Linked DNA regions of Homo sapiens: all the other regions are reported to be linked to region 1. Evidence: microRNA targets listed by miRTarBase, many of them from high-throughput screens and not tested one by one. Region 1 holds a microRNA gene; each other region holds the end of a gene's coding sequence.

Region 1 (3,222 bases):
CCCAGGGTTGGTCAATTTCGTGCCAGCCACCGCGGTCACACGATTAACCCAAGTCAATAGAAACCGGCATAAAGAGTGTTTTAGATCAATTCCCCTCAATAAAGCTAAAATTCATGTGAGTTGTAAAAAACTCCAGTTGATACAAAATAAACTACGAAAGTGGCTTTAATGCATCTGAACACAGAATAACTAAGACCCAAACTGGGATTAGATACCCCACTATGCTTAGCCCTAAACTTCAACAGTTAAATTAACAAAACTGCTCGCCAGAACACTACGAGCCACAGCTTAAAACTCAAAGGACCTGGCGGTGCTTCATATCCCTCTAGAGGAGCCTGTTCTGTAATCGATAAACCCCGATCAACCTCACCACCTCTTGCTCAGCCTATATACCGCCACCTTCAGCAAACCCTGACGAAGGCCGCAAAGTAAGCGCAAGTACCCACGTAAAGACGTTAGGTCAAGGTGTAGCCCATGAGGTGGCAAGAAATGGGCTACATTTTCTACTTCAGAAAACTACGATAACCCTGATGAAATTTAAGGGTCGAAGGTGGATTTAGCAGTAAACTAAGAGTAGAGTGCTTAGTTGAACAGGGCCCTGAAGCGCGTACACACCGCCCGTCACCCTCCTCAAGTATACTTCAAAGGACACTTAACTAAAACCCCTACGCATTTATATAGAGGAGATAAGTCGTAACATGGTAAGTGTACTGGAAAGTGCACTTGGACGAACCAGAGTGTAGCTTAACACAAAGCACCCAACTTACACTTAGGAGATTTCAACTCAACTTGACCGCTCTGAGCCAAACCTAGCCCCAAACCCATTCCACCTTACTACCGAACAGCTTTAACCAAATCATTTACCCAAATAAAGTATAGGCGATAGAAATTGTAAATCGGCGCAATAGATATAGTACCGCAAGGGAAAGATGAAAAATTGCAACCAAGCATAATACAGCAAGGACTAATCCCTGTACCTTCTGCATAATGAATTAACTAGAAATAACTTTGCAAAGAGAACCAAAGCTAAGACCCCCGAAACCAGACGAGCTACCTAAGAACAGCTAAAAGAGCACACCCGTCTATGTAGCAAAATAGTGGGAAGATTCGTAGGTAGAGGCGACAAACCTACCGAGTCTGGTGATAGCTGGTTGTCCAAGACAGAATCTTAGTTCAACTTTAAATTTACCCACAGAACCCTCCAAATCCCCCTGTAAATTTAACTGTTAGTCCAAAGAGGAACAGCTCTTTGGACACTAGGAAAAAACCTTGTAAAGAGAGTAAAAAATTTAATACCCACAGTAGGCCTAAAAGCAGCCACCAATTAAGAAAGCGTTCAAGCTCGACACCTGTCATCTAAAAAATCCCAAACACATAACTGAACTCCTTGCACCCAATTGGACCAATCTATTACCCTATAGAAGAGCTAATGTTAGTATAAGTAACATGAAAACATTCTCCTCCGCATAAGCCTACATCAGACCAAAATATTAAACTGACAATTAACAGCCCAATATCTATAACCAACCAACAAGCCATTATTACCCCCACTGTTAACCCAACACAGGCATGCCCACAAGGAAAGGTTAAAAAAAGTAAAAGGAACTCGGCAAATCTTACCCCGCCTGTTTACCAAAAACATCACCTCTAGCATTCTCAGTATTAGAGGCACCGCCTGCCCAGTGACATGCGTTTAACGGCCGCGGTACCCTAACTGTGCAAAGGTAGCATAATCACTTGTTCCTTAAATAGGGACTTGTATGAATGGCTCCACGAGGGTTCAGCTGTCTCTTACTTTCAACCAGTGAAATTGACCTGCCCGTGAAGAGGCGGGCATAGTATAACAAGACGAGAAGACCCTATGGAGCTTTAATTCATTAACGCAAACAACACTTAACAAGTCCACAGGCCCTAAACTATCAAACCTGCGTGAAAAATTTCGGTTGGGGCGACCTCGGAGCACAATCCGACCTCCGAGCAACACATGCCGAGACTTCACCAGTCAAAGCGAATTACCACGTTTAATTGATCCAATAACTTGACCAACGGAACAAGTTACCCTAGGGATAACAGCGCAATCCTATTCTAGAGTCCATATCAACAAGGTGTTAGCTGGACAGACTAAAATAATACCCCGGGAAAAGGAAAGGAACATGTATAGCTTTGCTCATGAACTATAACAGGGTAGAAGTTAGAGAAAATAACAAAGGAAGATTTATCTTCTGGGTCTGGTGAGCTTCAGTTTGAAAATTTTGAGTTTTCCTAGTGAATGTCATTCATGTCGGAGTCTTAGTAAAAGATAAATTAGCTATTATTATTGATAGCTTTTCATGGTGCCCAATCTTAAGAGTAAAAATCTTTAACATTTGCTTTAAATATGATTATCTTTAAATAGTTTTAAACTATTGAGCCACAGTCCTAGCTGACTTTATTTAACAATTTAAAAAAAGATACTTGATACAGATAAAATGACAATGAGAAACTACACAATACTTCCTATGTTAGGGCAAATGTATATAAACGGGGGCTTTTCAAAACTAATCCCTAAGATAACAATGGATTTTCATTCAATTTCATAATTAGCTGTAAGATAGCATATATATCTGCCTAGTAAAAAGACTGCATTTATACTTCCATATGCTGAATTGACCAGTGGAGGGGACAGGCATTATAAAGTCACAAGATGAGACAATCTAAAGTCAAATAAGTTCACAGGCAGAAACTGGATTCTTCTTCTAACTATAATGATTCAAAAAGACCTCCTGTAGTCTGAATTTGACCACAGAAATAGATAGGAAGGTCCTTGAGCAGCCTCTTAAGTACTAAGAGCACATGTCCTTAAAAAGTTGCCAAAAGAAATTCACTTAGTTATTCAATATGCATTTATTGAGCACCTACTACATACCAGGCACTAGTAACACAGATAAAGAGTACACTGATAAAGCTTAATTCAGATTAATCTTTAAAAATGCTTTCTACTTGGCCCCTGGGACCATTGTATCTTCTGAAGTCATCATAGTAGATAAGGGAGAAATTTTGCCTTAAAAAAATGCATCCGGTTACAGTGATTAAAAACACACACACACACACACACAACTAACATTTGTGGGGTCTAATGGAATAGTGGGGAAAAGACAGGATTTGGAATAAGGAAATCCAGTTTAGGCCTATTACTTATTAGCTGTGTGCCCTTAAGTTAAATTTCACTTATCTGGCCTAACT
Region 2 (3,222 bases), not on the chromosome of region 1:
TACAGGCATGCCACCGCCATGCCCGGCTAATTTTTTGTTTCTTTTTTTAGTAGAGGTGTGGTTTCACCATGTTGGCCAGGCTGGTCTCGAATTCCTGACCTCAGGCAATCCTCCCGCCTCAGCCTCCCAAAGTGCTGAGATTACAGGCATGAGCCACCGTGCCCAGCCCTGTTTGTATTTTTTAATTGTTGTAGTGTTATCTTTAATTTGTTTAGAATATTTTTGATCTGCTGTTGGTTGAATCTGCAGATGCAGAACCCACTGATAGAGAGGGCTGCTGTACCACATTTTCCTTGGGTGTGTCTTGGTTTCCATGGAAACTGGAATTCTTCCCTGCCTTGGATCATAGGGTAGTCAGCACCAAGATAAGCAAACTATATGCCTTTTGAAGTGATTCATAGGGATTTTTTTTCCATTTATTTTGTAATTGGCTTTTTTCCTTTTTGCCATTTAGAAAAAACACTGGACTTGGCATCAGTTGACCTGCGGAAGATGAGAGTGGCAGAGCTGAAGCAGATCCTGCATAGCTGGGGGGAGGAGTGCAGGGCCTGTGCAGAAAAAACTGACTATGTGAATCTCATTCAAGAGCTGGCCCCCAAGTATGCAGCGACACACCCCAAAACAGAGCTCTGATCTCCAATGCCAGCACATTTGTGACTTGTAATTAGAGAGAAAAGTGACTCTCTAGGATATGGACATGTTGATTAAGGATAACTGGGAATGCATCATATTTGGTCTCATGCTTTTTGTGTTGGTATTATTCCTCAGAATTTTGTTACGTGGGTTTATGAGTGAAACTAATACTACTGATAACTTACATTTGCAGTGTACCAAAAGCTAAAAGTTCCTTTCTCATAAGTTTCTTGGAATGACTATGCCAGTTTTCATTGCCTGTCTCCTAAAAGTGACCTACTGACAAATTGATGGAGTAAATTGATTCCAAGAAAGAAGAAGGCATTCAGAGACTCCTCTCTGGATGCAATTTTAAAATATATTGGACTAAAACAAAAGACACAACAGTCAGCTTATCTAATGCACAACTTCAATCCCAAATACAGAATCAAAAGTTTTTTTCAAGTGAATTTTCTGTTTTCACTCTATATTGTAGCTCTCTTTGGTATCAGAAATGGTCAGGCAGGAGTACTCGTTTTTCCCATTGGAAGAAAACCCACTTAAACCTACTTAAAGAAAATAGAGAGATCAAGAAACCGTATAAGTATAGCCAATGTTTGGCAATTATATCAACATTTACATTGTTAATTGAACCAAGCTCAAGGTCTTTTTCATTCCTTACAGTCACATATCAGACAAGTTTTTGATGGAAGATTAAAGCATATTAAAAACACTCATAGGCAACTTGGAACTTTACCATTGTTAATGCTATTTTATCAGCTTTCGGTTGTAAAATCATCTTTGGTTCCATTTTCTGGCCACATAAGAATAAGAAACCCACAGTAGAAGTGTCCGCCTCTGTGTGGCAGGTACAGCTGGGGAATACTGAAAAAACATTTCCTTGGAACTTTCTGGAGTGATGGGAATGTCCTATATCTTGATTGACATGGGGATTACATGGGTTAATAACATTGTCATCTGGTAGGATAATTAAGATCTGGGCATTTTATTGTATGTACATAATATCTTTAAAAACTGCTGTAGAAAAATTATTTGGAAATTAACTAAAATTAATTAATTCAACACACCTTGTTTGCTAGGCACAGTGGCTCACACCTGTAATCCCAGCACTTCAAGAGGCTGAGGCGGGAGGATTGCCTGAGTCTAGGAGTTAGAGATCAGCCTGAGCAACAGAGTGAGGTTCCGTCTCCACCAAAAATTTTAAAATTAGCTGCGCATGATAGTGTGTACCTGTAGTCCCAGCTACTCGGGAGGCTGAGGTGGGAGGACTGCTTGAGCCCAGGAGGTGGAGTCTGTAGTGAGCTGTGATCCTGCCACTGCACTCCAGCCTGGGCAACAGAGCAAGACCCTGCCAGAATATATGAAAAAACAAACAAAAAAGCCCACCTTATTTATTCAAAGAATTGCATTTACTGGCTGGGGTTGTTTTCAGGGAGTGGAGGAGACATTTTCAGACTGAAAATATACATCGAAAACATAATTTTTAATTCTAAATGCTGCAGAGGTAAATGCATTTTCAGCTGGGAAGCTGATATGTCAGAGAGTTAGTGGTTCCTAAGGAAATATATATATGATGTAACTGAAAGGTGAGAATACAAAGCTGTGGTGTAATGAATGGTCAAAGTAATTATTGTTTCTGAATTTTGGCAGCTCGATTATCATTTGTAAAGCATCTACTTTATTTTGAATTATATCTTCAAAAAAACCAAAGTTTGTTTTTGGTTGTTTTTGTTTCTTTGAGACAGTCTCGCTCTGTTGCCCAGGCTGGAATGCAGTGGCACAATCTTAGCTTACTGCAAACTCAGCCTCTTGTGTTCAAGTGATTCTTCTGCCTCACCCTTCCGAGTAGCTGGGATTACAGGCGCCCACCACTATGCCCAGCTAATTTTTTTGTATTTTTAGTAGAGACGGGGTTTTGCCATGTTGGCCAGGCTGGTCTTGAACTCCTGGCCTCAAGCGATCCACCCACCTCAGCCTCCCAAAGTGCTGGGATTACAGGTGTGAGCCACGATGCCCGGCCTCTCCAGAGTTTTCTTTTCTAAACTTCTTATAACCTTTATATCTGTTTTTATTTTTGCATTTTGAACCTATCAAGAAATGTGTTGTTTGAAAATATTATGTTTGGTGTCTGACCTCAAAATCGGGTCGCATTTCTATGTCTTTTCTTCAGGATACAAATTGAGGTAATAGAAACAGTGCTCAGCCAGTCATTTGTATCCATGGTGTTTAGTCTGTTTTTTTTTTTTTTCTTTCTTTTTGGACAGAGTCTCACTCTGTCACCCAGGCTGGTATGCAATGGCGCTATCTCAGTTCACTGCAACCTTTGACTCCCAGGTACAACTGACTCTCCTGCCTTAGCCTCCCCAGTAGCTGGGATTACAGGCGTGCACCACCACACCTGGCTAATTTTTGTATTTTTAGTAGAGATCGGGTTTCACTATGTTGGCCAGGGTGGTCTCAAACTCCTGACCTCAAGCGATCCACCTGCCTCATCCTCCCAAAGTGCTGGGATTACAGGCATGAGCCACTGTGTCCGATCTAGTCTGTTTTTTTGTTTGTTTGTTTGTTTTAAAGAGAATTTACATCAGT
Region 3 (3,000 bases), not on the chromosome of region 1:
CACTGCAACCTCTGCCTCCTGGATTCAAGCGATTCTCCTGCCTCAGCCTCCCAAGTAGCTGGGATTACAGACGCCCGCCACCACACGCGGCTAATTTTTGTAATTTTTAGTAGAGGCGGGGTTTCACTATGTTGGCCAAGCTGGTCTTGAACTCCTGACCTCAGGTGATCCACCTGTCTCGGCCTCCCAAAGTGCTGGGATTACAGGCATGAGCCACCACGCCTAGCCTGAAAAAATTATTTTAAATACTGATTTACTTGCAAATAAGGAATTAAAGTGTATGGTCACTTCTTAATTGAATAATTTTTTTTTTCTTAAATAGATCTCCTTTCTGTGAAGAAATAATCTGTTGCCGTGGAGACCAAGTGCGACTGGCAGTTCGTGTCCGAGTATTTACTTACCCTGAATCTGCATGTGCTGTTTGGATCATGTTTGCTTGTAAATATCGCTCGGTATTATAGGGCCAATATTTATATAAGATTTATACCTGTGTTTAATTGGAATTTTACACATTGTACATTACTTAGCTATTTAGAGGTTTGTTATTTTAAAATCACAATCTGGCTTGAATGGCATACTTCAATTTTGTATATACTTGACTGGTAATGTTTAAAAAAAATCATGCATTCCTTTAAAAATTAAGGCTGAAAAACTTGTATAAATCTCCCTGGAATTTAGTATAAATTAAGTGTATATTCTATTTTAATAAATGCTACTTTGTTTACAGTTATCAGTAGTTTAAATATTAATATAAAATGCATTCAGTTTTCTTTACACAAACAGGTAATCAAAGAGATGTTTGTCTAAGGGTTTGAGCCCTAGACAAATCAGTATGATCATTACTTTTCACAGGTTAATGGAATTATTTTATACAGATTAGGAGAAATTAACCTCATGACAGATTTATTTATTGCATTGGTGAAAATAAATGTTAATGAATTACCACTTTTGTGGTTTATTCGTGGTCCTTGGGATATTTGAGACTGTCCAGAAATTTATGGTTGGACCTTGAAGCAAGAGTAGGAAAAAACTAATACCAGAAAAGCATAAATATTAATAACCTCATATGAAAGTACATGAATCATTTAGAAATATTTATCACTGTGATTTGTTGTAAAAATGAATTGGGTATTTTAGAAAAACTTTATTATACCTCTTTGTTATGATACTGATAAATTGTGATCTTGCAGTCGATCACTGATTTTCTGTGGTCAGAGGATTCATTATTAGCCTCTTCATGGATTCTATCTTCTGAAACCCTTTTTTCTTTCATTGTGATAAAAAAATCAGCATATATGTGACTAATCTAAATAAGAGATTGATTGTGTGAGACCACTGAAAACAAGCATATGTGAGTGATTCCATACTGATTTTTGTTTTAAAATTGAGCACGTTTTAAAAATTTTGTAAGGCTCGGCGTAGTGGTTTATGCCTGTAATCCCAGCACTTTGGGAGGCCGAGGTGGGTGGATCACTTGAGGTCAGGAGTTCGTGACCAGCCTGGGCAACATGGTGAAACCCTGTCTCTACTAAAAATACGAAAATTAGGCCGGGTGCGGTGGCTCACACCTGTAATCCCAGCTACTCAGGAGGCTGAGGCAGGAGAATCGCTTGAACCTGGGAGGCAGAGGTTGCAGTGAGGTGAGATCGCGCCACTGCACTCCAGCATGGGAGGCAGAGCGAGACTGCATCTCAGAAAAAAAAAAAAGGGCCAGGCATGGTGGCTCACACCTGTAATGCCAGCACTTTGGGAGGCTGATGTGGGTGGATCACGAGGTCAGGGGTTCAAGACCAGCCTGGCCAACACAGTGAAACCCTGTCTCTACTAAAGATACAAAAATTAGCTGGGCATGGTGGCATGTGCCTGTAGTCTAGCTACTCAGGAGACTGAGGCAGGAGAATCGCTTGAACCTGGGAGGCGGAGGTTGTGATGAGCCAAGATCATGCCACTGTACTCCAGCGTGGGCAACAGAGCAATACTCCATCTCAAAAAAAATGTTTTTTATAAGTTAATTTTAAGTAGCTAGGCATGGTGTCACACACCCATAATCCAAGCTACTCGGGAGTCTGAGGCGGAAGGATCGCTTGAGTCCACAGAGGTGGTGAGCTAAGATCGCGTCACTGCATTCCAGCCTGGGTGACAGAGCAAGACTCTGTCTCAAAAAAAAAAAAAAAAAAAAAAAAGAAAGTGTGAAACCTGATTCCTCAACTTATTTTAAAATTTTATATATTAAAAAAAGTGTTAAGTGAACAAAAGTAAACTTTAAAAAGAGTAGCAATTCAACTTTTTGCAAGAAGCTGCATAATACATGATATGAGGGGTTTGATTGCCCATTTAGCACTTCTGTGCATAGTTCTTTTCATTTTTTTTAAGTTTTTTATTTTTTCAAAGAATCTTTGTTCACTCTGATATGTGTAGTTCTTAATTTAGTTGCTTTATCCATTGGTCTTAAGAAAGTAACTCTATACCAGTTGGCTATCCAAGTTATTAATTCTTTTAATCACTTTAATTCACCCCTACAAATAAAATGATTTCGTTTTTCGAAAATTAAAATCTAAAAGTGTCTTAAAATTTACTTTTTGGGCCAGGTGTGATGGCTCACACCTATAATCCCAGCACTTTTGGAGGCTGCGGCCAGAGGATGGCCCAAGAAGTAGCTCAAGACCAGCCTGGGAGCATAGAGAGACCCCCCCCTATTTCTCTAAAAGAATAAATCTACTTTGTTTTATTTTTATGTATAATAAATATTCAATTTGTTTAAAAAGTCTGAAATATTATGATCCCTCTTCTACAATTTTCATCAAAAATGGTAATCAGATGTTTCTTGTGAGACTGACATGACTGTAGAAAATTAGCAAAATAATAATTGAAGCTTTTTTTAAAGCATAGTGGTTCACACCTATAATTCCAGTACTCTGGGAGGCTGAGGCAGGAGAATCTCTTGGGTTCAGGAGTTTAAGACCAGCCTGGGCAACATAGCAAGAACCCCTCTCTACAAAA
Region 4 (3,222 bases), not on the chromosome of region 1:
GGTGGCGGCTGGCATCGTCTGCACCCTGTGGGCCCTGGTCATCCTGGGAACAGTGTATCTTTTGCTGGAGAACCATCTCTGCGTGCAAGAGACGGCCGTCTCCTGTGAGAGCTTCATCATGGAGTCGGCCAATGGCTGGCATGACATCATGTTCCAGCTGGAGTTCTTTATGCCCCTCGGCATCATCTTATTTTGCTCCTTCAAGATTGTTTGGAGCCTGAGGCGGAGGCAGCAGCTGGCCAGACAGGCTCGGATGAAGAAGGCGACCCGGTTCATCATGGTGGTGGCAATTGTGTTCATCACATGCTACCTGCCCAGCGTGTCTGCTAGACTCTATTTCCTCTGGACGGTGCCCTCGAGTGCCTGCGATCCCTCTGTCCATGGGGCCCTGCACATAACCCTCAGCTTCACCTACATGAACAGCATGCTGGATCCCCTGGTGTATTATTTTTCAAGCCCCTCCTTTCCCAAATTCTACAACAAGCTCAAAATCTGCAGTCTGAAACCCAAGCAGCCAGGACACTCAAAAACACAAAGGCCGGAAGAGATGCCAATTTCGAACCTCGGTCGCAGGAGTTGCATCAGTGTGGCAAATAGTTTCCAAAGCCAGTCTGATGGGCAATGGGATCCCCACATTGTTGAGTGGCACTGAACAAGCAGACCAACAACACTGAGGAAGATAGAGTGGTGACTTAGAATTAACTCGTGCTAAGGGGTCGGGGGCTTTGAAAATGCCACCCCCCTTTCTTATTGCAAGACGGCTTCTCGCACATGAACTGCATCCTTCTCATTCTGTCGGAAATGAAATTCACACAACTATACCTTTTGGGGAGGTTCCAGTTGATTGAAGTGAGTTGGCTGCATTTTCTTATCTGATCACAATGGCAGGGGACAGAATGTGCATGGAGTGGAGCATGTGTGTGTTGGGAGGGGGGCTAGGAACTGCACAGCCCTTGTGTAATTTTCGTTGTTTGTTTTTGTTTTGAGACAGAGTCTCACTCTGTGTCCCAGGCTGGAGTGCAGTGGCACAGTCTCGGCTCACTGCAACCTCTGCCTCCCGGGTTCAAGCAATTCTCCTGCCTCAGCCTCCCGAGTAGCTGGGATTAGAGGCGCCAGCCAACACACCCGGCTAATTTTTGTATTTTTAGTAGAGACAGGGTTTTGCCATGTTGGCCAGGCTGGTCTCGAGCTCCTGACCTCAGGTGATCCGCCTGCCTTGGCCTCCCAAAGTGGTGGGATCACAGGCGTGAGCCACCGTGCCTGGCCTCCCCTGTGTCATTTTAAATGGCTAAGTAAATGGGTATATGTGTTTGAATGGGGCATGTTCACTCTCTTAGGGGCTATGGGGCAGTTAGCAGCATTTCCTATCCTCTGACCTTAAATCATTCCTTATCTCAGAAAACAGAAACCGGGCTCAGTCAATCAATGCTTTATTTCAGGCCGAATGAGGCTCTTTAGATTGGGATCTATTGATCTATCAATTTTCATCTTTACATTTCTTTGTACATCTGTACATTTTGTCCAAATGTACATCTGTACGTCTGTCATCATTGTGACTTCCTGGTAGCCCAAGAAGAACAACAACAAAACAATCTGCTCTGACCTTCTTCAAATCTTTGTATTTCAAAGAAGGTGCTGAGGGATCTGTTTCCTTGCCCTGGCTTCTCCAGTGGGATGTGCTGAGTCCAATACAATTGCTTTTATAATTGCTTTTGACAACTTGTCATGTGACTGTGAATTGAAATTATTCACTTATTTTCCAAGTATTTACTGAATTCGTATTTGGTGGCAGGCAGTATACTGTGTAATTTTTAGTGGAGGGTCATTAGTCAACTCTTATGTGACAGTAAAGTTTTTTGGGGGGGTGGGGACAGAGAAGTTAAGAGCTTTCATCCTTTCACGGAATACAGTTTCTAGACCGATTCTGTGTGAACATCAGTTTTGTCCTCTTATTGCAAGACTCCCTCATACACATGAGTTTCCCAAATGTGTACCTGGACCCCTCGAAACAGAGGACTCTACGAAATGACAAGCTGCCCCTGCCCTGAATTAGGGGGAAACATTCCAGGCCAACTCTAGCTCCTTTCTCAAGCTACAAAGTGGTGAACATGGTTCTCAACTCCTTAATTTATACTCTCTCAAATGCCCAGGATACTCTACCCACTTAAGAACCTTGCCAACTTCTGGGGGTTGGGCATGGTGGCTCACGCTTGTGATCCCAGCACTTTGGGAGACTGAGGCGGATCACCTGAGGTCAGGAGTTCTAGACCAGCCTGACCAACATGGAGAAACCTCGTCTCTACTAAAAATTCAAAATTAGCCTGGTGTGGTGGCGCATGCCTATAATCCCAGCTATTCGGGAGGCTGAGGCAGGAGAATCACTTGAACCGAGGAGGTGGAGGTTGCGGTGAGGTGACATCGTGCCATTGCACTCCAGACTGGGCCACAGGAGTGAAACGCCGTCTCAAAAAAAAAAAAGAACTTTGCCAACTTCTAGTTCTTTGGCCTCAAAACACCCCTCTAGGCTGTCCCTATTATTCCTTTTTTCAGAGGCACTGTGCAGCCTAGTGATGAAAAGTACGAGCTATAGAGCATTAGAAGCATCGAAGTTTGAATCTCAGCTCAAGCATTTACTAGGCCTGTGATCTTAGGGCAGCTTGTGTTTTTAGACACTGAATCTTGCTCTGTTGCCCAGGCTGGAGTGCAGTGAGTGGCATGATCATAGCTCACTGCAGCCTCAAACTCCTGGGCTCAAGTGTTCCTCCCACCTCAGCCTCCTGAATAGCTGGGAGTACAGGCATAAGCCACCACACTCAGCTAATTTTTAAATTTTTTTTATAGAGACGAGGTCTCACTCACTGTGTTGCCCAAGCTGGTCTCAAACTCCTGGCCTCCAGCAATCCTCCCACCTTGGCCTCCCAAAGTATTGCGATTGCCAGCATGAGCCACTGCTCCCAGCCTGGCATATATATAGATATATATAGAGATATATAGATATCTATCTATCTATATATATATATATTTTTTTTTTTTTTTTTGAGACAGAGTCTTGCTCTATCACCCAGGCTGGAGTACAGTGGCCCAATCTCAGCTCACTGCAAGCTCTGCCTCCTGGGTCCACGCCATTCTCCTGCCTCAGCCTCCAGAGTAGCTGGGACTACGGGCGCCCCACCACCACGCCCGGCTAATTTTTTGTATTTTTAGTACAGACGGGGTTTCATT

What was found. Region 1 holds the annotated microRNA hsa-miR-4485-5p (ACCGCCUGCCCAGUGA, at 1,671-1,686, shown strand). A microRNA usually pairs through its seed, bases 2 to 8, with sites in the 3' UTR of a target mRNA and lowers its output. Matches are read on the target gene's strand: a 7mer-m8 pairs with bases 2 to 8, a 7mer-A1 pairs with bases 2 to 7 and ends in A, and an 8mer does both.
Region 2: miRTarBase lists CDNF as a target of hsa-miR-4485-5p. The part of its 3' UTR that is shown has no 7-base or 8-base seed match.
Region 3: miRTarBase lists CEP76 as a target of hsa-miR-4485-5p. The part of its 3' UTR that is shown has no 7-base or 8-base seed match.
Region 4: the mRNA of HCAR1 is a reported target of hsa-miR-4485-5p. Seed matches in the 3' UTR shown: 7mer-A1 at 2,238-2,244.

Annotation. Positions count from the first base shown.
Region 1 is chr11:10,506,769-10,509,990 of GRCh38, reverse strand. MIR4485 (microRNA 4485) reads left to right here and starts at 1,665; the gene lies at 1,665-1,721. AMPD3 (adenosine monophosphate deaminase 3) reads right to left here. Exons shown (of 15, transcript NM_001025389.2): 15 at 2,412-3,222. It also overlaps the pseudogene MTRNR2L8. RefSeq lists a silencer at 575-869.
Region 2 is chr10:14,817,391-14,820,612 of GRCh38, reverse strand. CDNF (cerebral dopamine neurotrophic factor) reads left to right here. Exons shown (of 4, transcript NM_001029954.3): 4 at 455-1,368. The coding sequence ends at 633. Among named protein-coding and RNA genes, the nearest start is that of CDNF, 19 kb to the left of the region's middle.
Region 3 is chr18:12,670,826-12,673,825 of GRCh38, reverse strand. It overlaps CEP76 (centrosomal protein 76), which reads left to right. Exons shown (of 12, transcript NM_024899.4): 12 at 323-1,201. The coding sequence ends at 461. It also overlaps a transcript of PSMG2 not described here. Among named protein-coding and RNA genes, the nearest start is that of SPIRE1, 14 kb to the right of the region's middle.
Region 4 is chr12:122,726,729-122,729,950 of GRCh38, reverse strand. It overlaps HCAR1 (hydroxycarboxylic acid receptor 1), which reads left to right. Exons shown (of 1, transcript NM_032554.4): 1 at 1-3,222. The coding sequence ends at 652. Among named protein-coding and RNA genes, the nearest start is that of HCAR1, 2.5 kb to the left of the region's middle. RefSeq lists an enhancer at 1-345.